Linked DNA regions of Homo sapiens. The protein of the gene in region 1 interacts with the protein of each later gene in a pairwise test. Each region holds a gene or a part of one and is shown on either strand. Other genes may lie near its edges. The genes, in order: CNTNAP4 and RANBP10.

What was found.
Region 2: the proteins of CNTNAP4 (region 1) and RANBP10 interact in a two-hybrid assay, tested with the Homo sapiens proteins (one study listed by BioGRID and IntAct).

The regions. Positions count from the first base shown.
Region 1 is NC_000016.10:76,532,310-76,536,129, forward strand, and holds part of CNTNAP4 (contactin-associated protein-like 4 isoform 1 precursor), read left to right. Parts: intron 1-3,235; coding exon 3,236-3,475; intron 3,476-3,820. UniProt on the Homo sapiens protein: Presynaptic protein involved in both dopaminergic synaptic transmission and GABAergic system, thereby participating in the structural maturation of inhibitory interneuron synapses.
Region 2 is NC_000016.10:67,733,359-67,737,178, reverse strand, and holds part of RANBP10 (ran-binding protein 10), read left to right. Parts: intron 1-2,136; coding exon 2,137-2,321; intron 2,322-2,379; exon of another isoform or gene 2,380-2,630; coding exon of another isoform or gene 2,631-2,938; intron 2,939-3,820. UniProt on the Homo sapiens protein: May act as an adapter protein to couple membrane receptors to intracellular signaling pathways.

The DNA.
Region 1 (3,820 bases):
CTGCCTCTAACGAAATGTGTTTATTCTAGTATTTCCTCAGATGGACCTGTGGACCAATCTTTGAAATTCTCTATGCCCCTAGTTTCCCATCATCCAAAACAAACTAAACAAACACAAAAAAATCAGAACAGCTGGAAATGGACTTTAGTCAGTTGTTGGACCCCAAGTTATTTAGTTACGTTGTTACTGGCAGAATGAGATAAGCCTGTGAGTTAGGGAGACTGTGCATGTTTCAGAGCAGCAAATGTATAACAATGTGATTTAATGTTACTGTATACTGTAGACTGTATACCATGATTTAATGTGGGATAATACAAAGTAAATTAAATACACCAAGAGCACACCTTTAATTCAGAGTTCACAGAATGTGGCCCCCCTGCAAAAAGTTCCTGTGCCAAAGTGAAAACCAAGATGTGAGCTGGACCTTACCCAGGGAAGAAATATCCAACAAGGACGCCAAAAGAATCCTGGCCAAAGACTTTGAGCCCTGGGAGCTCACTGAGTTGAGTCAACAGAGTGGAAGAATAGGGAGGTGTGAAGATAAAGAAGTAGCAGCTCTGGTAAGGAAGAAAAAGAAAAATCCTGAGGATAAGGGCAGAAGAGAGACTTCAAGAACGGCAGGTCCTCAAAAAACTACAAATAGAACTACAATGTGATCCAGCAATCTCAATAATGGGCATTTATCCAAAGAAAAGAAAATCAGTGTATTGAAAAGACAGCTGCACCCCTAAGTTTATTGCAACACTATTGACAATAGCCAAGATGTGGAATCAACCCAGTTGTCCAATAACAAATGAATCGATAAAAAAAAAGTGGTGTATATATGTAATGGAATACAATTCAGGCATAAAAAAGAATAAAATCCTGTCACTCACAGCAACATGGATGGAACTGAAGGGCATTATGTTTAGTGAAATAAACCAGGAACAGAAAGTTAAACACAGCATGGTATCACTCATATAAGGAAGCTAAGGAAAGGGTGATCTCATAAGTAAAAAGTAGAACAGAGGATACTAGAAGATGGGGAGGGTACAGGGAAGGGGCACAGAGATTTGTTAAAGGATATACTATTACAGCTAGACAGGAGGAAAAAGTTCTAGTGTTGTATGCCACTGTAGAATGACTATAGTTTACAATAATATGTAGTTTCAAATAACTAGGAAGATATTGAATGTTCCCAACACTAAAAAATGATAAATGTTTGAGGTGATGGTGATGCTAACTACTCTGATCTGATCACTAATATCATGTATATCACAACATTATGTACCCCATAAATATGAACAATTATTATGTGTCTATTAATTTTTACAACAGAACAACAAAAAGGAATAAACAACTCAATTGGGCACCCATATTAAAAATCTTAAAAAAAAAATGGCAGAAGTAAATGTAAATGTAGGAGGAATTAAACAAGAAGATTTCCAGGCATTCCAAAACTCTGTGATGAAATTAACTCCATGCCTACCATGCCCACTTGTGACAATGGCAATATGTTGACACTCTCTAGATTTATAAATAGATTTATAAATAGAACAGCCAACACCCTTAAGACCTTGGCATCCTTCACTGAGGAGAAACCAAGTATGTAAATGGAAACATTTTGAATAGACATTTAAATACAGCAATTTGGATATAGTTATAGCTATGAATCTGAATTCTGAATAGTGTTAGTGTCCGTAAGTCCAGAATTCTCAGGAATTCTTAGAGGTTCCTTTTCATAGTCTTTCATTATTTGCAAAGAGATAATTAGTTTATTAGAAATGTTCATTAAATTCGGGCCTCATTCTCAGTCTCAGAGACCCAAGCATCTCTGTGGGGCAAAAGGGGTCCCCCTTTACCCTTGAAGCACTATGCCCATTTCTCCCATTTCTATGTATATTGTGGTTTAACAAATGAATGGATGGATTTCATAGTTATAACACAGAAATTATTTGTCTACCACTGTTCTTTGTGCTGGATATACAGTAGCAATTGAAGTAGCCCTTGTTGAATGAAGGCTAGGTTAAGGAGCTACCTAAATGATTTGGAAGAAACGAAGTGAACATGTTTTAGGAAAAGAGAATTTATATGTAAAGAGTACATACAAGGTCCTGGTGATGAGACACCATCATTTATCCAAAGATGGAGCTTCTTTTTAGAGGCCTCATAACCATCTAATTGCCTCTCAATAGAATTGCCAGGTTATTTAGGTTAGGGTACTCTTTTCCCGCTTCAAGTTCTGAGCATTAACTTAAGAGTATTCCTGGACACAAATTTATGTATGAATCTACCCAGGGCTTACACTTCTATCAGGGTAGTGCTTATACAATGATGGTCTAGTGATCATCTGAATTAGAATCTCCTGCAAGCTTTGTTAACTGTTGAGATTCACAACCCTATTTTTGGACCACAGAACCAGTATTTCTTGGAGCAAGCTACCGAGTCTATTTATTAGAAGCTCTCCGTGTGATTATGTGTTACCCATATTTCTTAAAGTTTGAGAAACTCTACCTTAGAATAATAGGGTCTGATTCCAACCCAACATTGTAGACCTCTTCAAGGATGACTTGATAGGTACATATGGTTATGTATTCAATAAACGTTACCGTTACATCACTTATTTCTGTATCGATCCCCTTTTGCAATTTTGTTAAGAATCTTTCCAAGCATAAAACACTGAACACTAGACTAATCTTTAGAAAAACAATCACTGGGAAATATGTCAGCCAAAAACAAATAATCTGACATTCAATTACCATCTTTTCAATGAATGGATAACAACCAAAGGACCATATCAATGCACCATCAGAAGATCTCAAGGACTCCTTCATAATTCTCACAAAGTTAAAACTGTACCAGAATCAAGATCAGGTTTAAATATGAAGGACAAACCACACTTACCCAGCAATATATACTTATTCAAATTCCCAGAAAGTAGTTTCTACATTAAAATAACGATACATGTCACTGTTATTTTCAATGAGAGTAGTGTATGACCTCTATTTTATTCCTCAATTTAAAGATCAATAAATATTTTTTAGAAAAAAAATGTAACATATTCAACTTTTAAAAAAATTGAATTAAAGTTGTATCTTTCTTGGAGTCTATATTTGACCATGAATTGTGTTTCCAAAATTATATTTGCTCATCCATTTTTTTTGCCGTTCTCTGTAAGGCCTCAGTTTTGTTTGGTCTTTAAACCCTGAATAAAACACCTAGGAACATGTTTCCATTTGCAGTATTTCCCTTTTAGGTGGAACGGCCACCAGACAGAGAGGCTTTCTGGGCTGCATTCGGTCTCTGCAGTTGAATGGGATGACCCTGGATTTGGAAGAAAGAGCCCAGGTGACTCCAGAAGTGCAGCCAGGTTGTAGGGGACATTGCAGCAGCTATGGGAAGTTATGCCGCAATGGAGGGAAATGCAGAGAAAGACCCATTGGGTTCTTTTGTGACTGCACTTTCTCTGCATACACAGGGCCATTCTGCTCAAATGGTAAGTGTGGCATGGAAGACTGTAAGAGGAAAATTTATTCAATGTGGATTAAATGTCTGGCAGTTCTTTTCTATGCAGCTATTTGAAACAAAAAAAATTCAATTTCTGAATTGCTTTGGCAAAGTATCTGTTGAATGTAAAGAATGAGTACAAGATCCTGGTGATGAGACAGCATCATATATTCAAAGATGGAGCGCATCATATTTCATTACTTAAATATTTGACTCATTTATGAAAAACTAGTGTTTGTTGATGGTAAATCCATTAATAGTCACCTTTATGTATTATAAAGTGTTAGTTGCTCAATCTGCTTTTTTCTACCTAGTGTTGATGCTCTTAAATAAT
Region 2 (3,820 bases), 8.8 Mb from region 1:
TTTCTGCTTGCTTAGTTCAAAAAAAAAAAAAAACAGAAAAGGATGGAGTTTTCTGCTTGCTTAGTTCAGGGCATATCCTCACCTCCAGCCATCCCGCACCTGTACTCCAGTCTCTATTATGAGTCATCACAGGCCTAATCACATGCAGGGCCTCCACCCAGGATGCTGGGAGCCTGGCCTGGCTCTGTGTGTTCTGGTTAGGTTCTGGAAGGAAGGAAGGTTTGCTGACTCTGGTGGCTGCTTTGGGATCCCAAACACCCCAGTGATGCCCCAGGAAATGCCTTTGTGATCTTATGGGCCTCTGAAGCCCAGACCATAGCACCCAGGGTCCTGTTAAAACCTCCAGTCCATGGCTCAGAATCCTTCCCTCTTACCTGGAAGCCCCAGAGAGGGGCTGTGGTCCTAGGCAAAGAGAACAGAATCAGGTGGAGAATGCTGACCCTGGCTAGGGAAGGGTCTAGTTATGGGGACGTGACATGAAATGACCAGGCATGAGCATGGCCAGTATGCAGCCACATGCAAGAAGGTATGGGGGAAAGACATGGTAGGCAGTGACGGTCAGGAAGGCTTGCTGGAGGAGGCGGGCCTTGCCTGTGGTGGAGGATGGTAGGGGAAAGAAAGGAAGCGAGAGGTCCTCTGTGTGCAGAGCCCATGGTGGGCTGAAGCCAGCATACAGGAAAAGGTCCCATACCTTGTGCAGGTACAAAAATGCATGGTTGGCCAGGCGCGCTGGCTCACGCTTGTGATCCTAGCACTTTGGGAGGCTGAGGTGGGCAGATCACCTGAGGTTGGGAGTTCAAGACCAGCCTGACCAACATGGAGAAACCCCATCTCTGCTAAAAATACAAAATTAGCCGGGCGTGGTGGCGCATGCCTGTAATCCCAGCTACTCAGGAGGCTGAGGCAAGAGAATTGCTTGAACCCAGGAGGTAGAAGTTGCGGTGAGCTGAAATCGCGCCATTGCACTCCAGCCTGGGCAACAAGAGCGAAACTCCGTCTCAAAAAAAAAAAAGTGCATGATACTCAGGAAGGAACATGGCCTGAGCACGGAGGTGAAGGGTGGACTGAGGGCCCTGGGAAGACCATCTGCAGTGACAGTGGGGAGGAGGCTAGCGAGGCTCTGGACAGTTGCAGTGGGGAGCCACAGGAACCACCAAGTGAGGGAGGGACCGAACAAAAGCCAGTCATGGTAGAGGCTAGGTGGAAAGCAGGGAGCCTCACACCCTACTGGCCAGAAGATCCTCTTAGCGAGCCTCTAACAGGAAGGGTAGCTTCTCTTCACCCTTTGCCAGCACCAGGGGTCTAGACCACCGGTTCCCTTTTGCCATGTTCCCCTCCTCCCTCCTTTCCTGCGTCATCCCATCTCTGCCTACCCCCCATGTATCTATCTTTTGGTTTGTTTTTTTTTTTTCTTTCTGAGACAGGGACTCACTCTTGTCACCAAGGCTGGGTTGCAGTGGCAGAATCACAGCTTACTGCAGCCTCAATTTCCTGGACTCAAGCCATCTTCCCACCTCAGCCTCCCGAGTAGCTGGGACCACAGGTGCATACCACCACACCTGGCTAATTTTTATCTTTTTATTTTTTGTAGAGACAGGGTCTCACTTTGTTGCCCAGACTGGTCTTGAAAACCTGGGCTCAAGCGATCCTCCTAAATTGGCCTCCCAAAGTGCTGGGATTACAGGCATGAGCCACTGTGCCCAGCCTCATGTGTCTTATTTTTTTTGAGACAGAGAGATCCTTGGCCCTGGATCTTTCCAAGAGGAGCCATGACCCACTATTGCAGCAGACCTTCATGGGCACGTCTGAAGGGTCGTGGAGCCCAGCCCATTTCTGTATGCTTTGGCTGAGTTCCAGAAAGGGCTCTTGGGCCTTGAGGACACAATGGCCTCTGATACAGGGCAGGACACTCTCCATGATGTGCCTTGCTTGCTTTTCTTTTGCTTTCTCCCCTCAAGCTTTGGGGCATAATGTCTCTGCTAGGGAGGTGGACAGAGGTGGCTCCGCCCTGCCTCCTCCAGCCTTGCTGCAACTCTCCCAGCCCAAGCATGGGCCAGCAGCAGCCATGGAGGTGAGGTGAGGCCTTAGAACCCCACTGCCCTCAGGGCCTGACTGACATTTCATTCTCCTCCTCAGGCCAACCTCTACCCCACCGTAGGCCTGCAGACACCTGGGGAGATTGTGGACGCCAACTTTGGGCAGCAGCCCTTCCTGTTTGACATTGAGGACTACATGCGGGAGTGGCGTGCCAAGGTCCAGGGCACGGTCCACTGCTTCCCCATCAGTGCCCGGCTTGGCGAGTGGCAGGCAGTGCTGCAGAAGTGAGTGCCCTGCTCCTGCCCTTACCCACTCCCACCCCACCCCAGCCCACTTCACTCTAGGCCCCTGTAGGGCTACAAGCTGTTCTTACAAATTCCAGCGGGTGGATCCTTTCTGGGAAGCATTCCCAGGGCCATTCAGCCTGCAGCTCTCCTGCTTCTCTGTCGTCGGATGGACAGCTCCCACCGAGTTCTCCGGGCTGCTCCTAATTAAACCTTTGCCTCTCAGCCATATTGGAGGCTCCTGTATATAAGATCACCAGCAGGGCTGTTTTCCTTCCCCAGGTCATTTTGCAGAGGATTTTGCAGAGGATGCCCTGTGGTCTCTTCCTCTGTGGACCCTTTTTCTACCATAGGGAGTATCCATGGTGCTGTGACTCTGGCCTGAGGCCACCTCACAGGGCCCAGCATCCAACTGAGTCTCATTCGTCTATAGCGGTGGTGGAGGGAAGGGAGTTCTCCCTAGGACCAGCTGAGCTAGCTCCTTGGCTGATTAATTCCCAGACTGTCCTGGAAGCCAGTGTCGCTGAACTCCCAAGGGAGGCCAGCTTTGGGTTTCTCTTCCACTTGCCATCTGCAAGCCTGAGTGAGGCAGTGACCAGTATCCACTCTGCCAGGAGGTGGGTGTTAGCTTGGCTCTCAAGGATGGGCAGATGGGCATGGGGAAGGGCTGGGCTTCCACTGCCTGTGGTCATTGCCCTGCAAAGGCACCAGGGTGCTAGGATTCCTGGGGTGGGGTTGGGGTACACACTGAGTTCTTTGTGCAGCCTTTGTCCCTTGAGGCAGGCCCCAAGGATGGGCTGAGGCAGGGGCTAGGTGGCCAGACCTTCCCCAGGAAAAACAGCATTGCTGCCTCTTGTTCACAGCCCCCCAGAGCAGATGACAAGGACTTCCTTGGATGGCCAGGACAGCGCCACTCCCAGAGCAGGCTTGGTGGGATTGCCAAGAAGAGGGGTGAAGATGCCAAGTCTGTGTAGGGGAGGAACTGATACTCTCAGTTTTCAGGGCCTAGGCTCAGCACATGGATGTGTTTTTGTTTTGGGGTTTTTAAAAAAATACTGAGATGGGGTCGCACTTTGTTGCCCAGGTTGGACTCCTGGGCTCAAGTGATCCTCCCACCTCAGCCTCCTGAGTAGCTGGCATCACAGGCATGTGCTACCATGTCCAGCATAGCACATAGGTGTTTTTGTTTACATGTGTGTATCCATGTGCTTGTATGTGTTCATATGTAGCATTTGCCAAGACCTGCATATAATTTGTGTACTGTGGTTTTACATAACTTCATTTAATGAATATTGATAATGGCTATGTTATCACAGAGACAAATTTGTCACAAGCCTTTTGGCTGGCTTCCTCTAGTGGAAGGTCAGGTAATTCCTTCTCTTTTACTTGTGTAGGTAACCCTCTTGTAGATAAAGACTTTTTCATATTTACCCTTGTGTTTATAATAATAATATGGTGTAATAATAATAATTATACTTACTTTACTTTTTTCTGAGTCA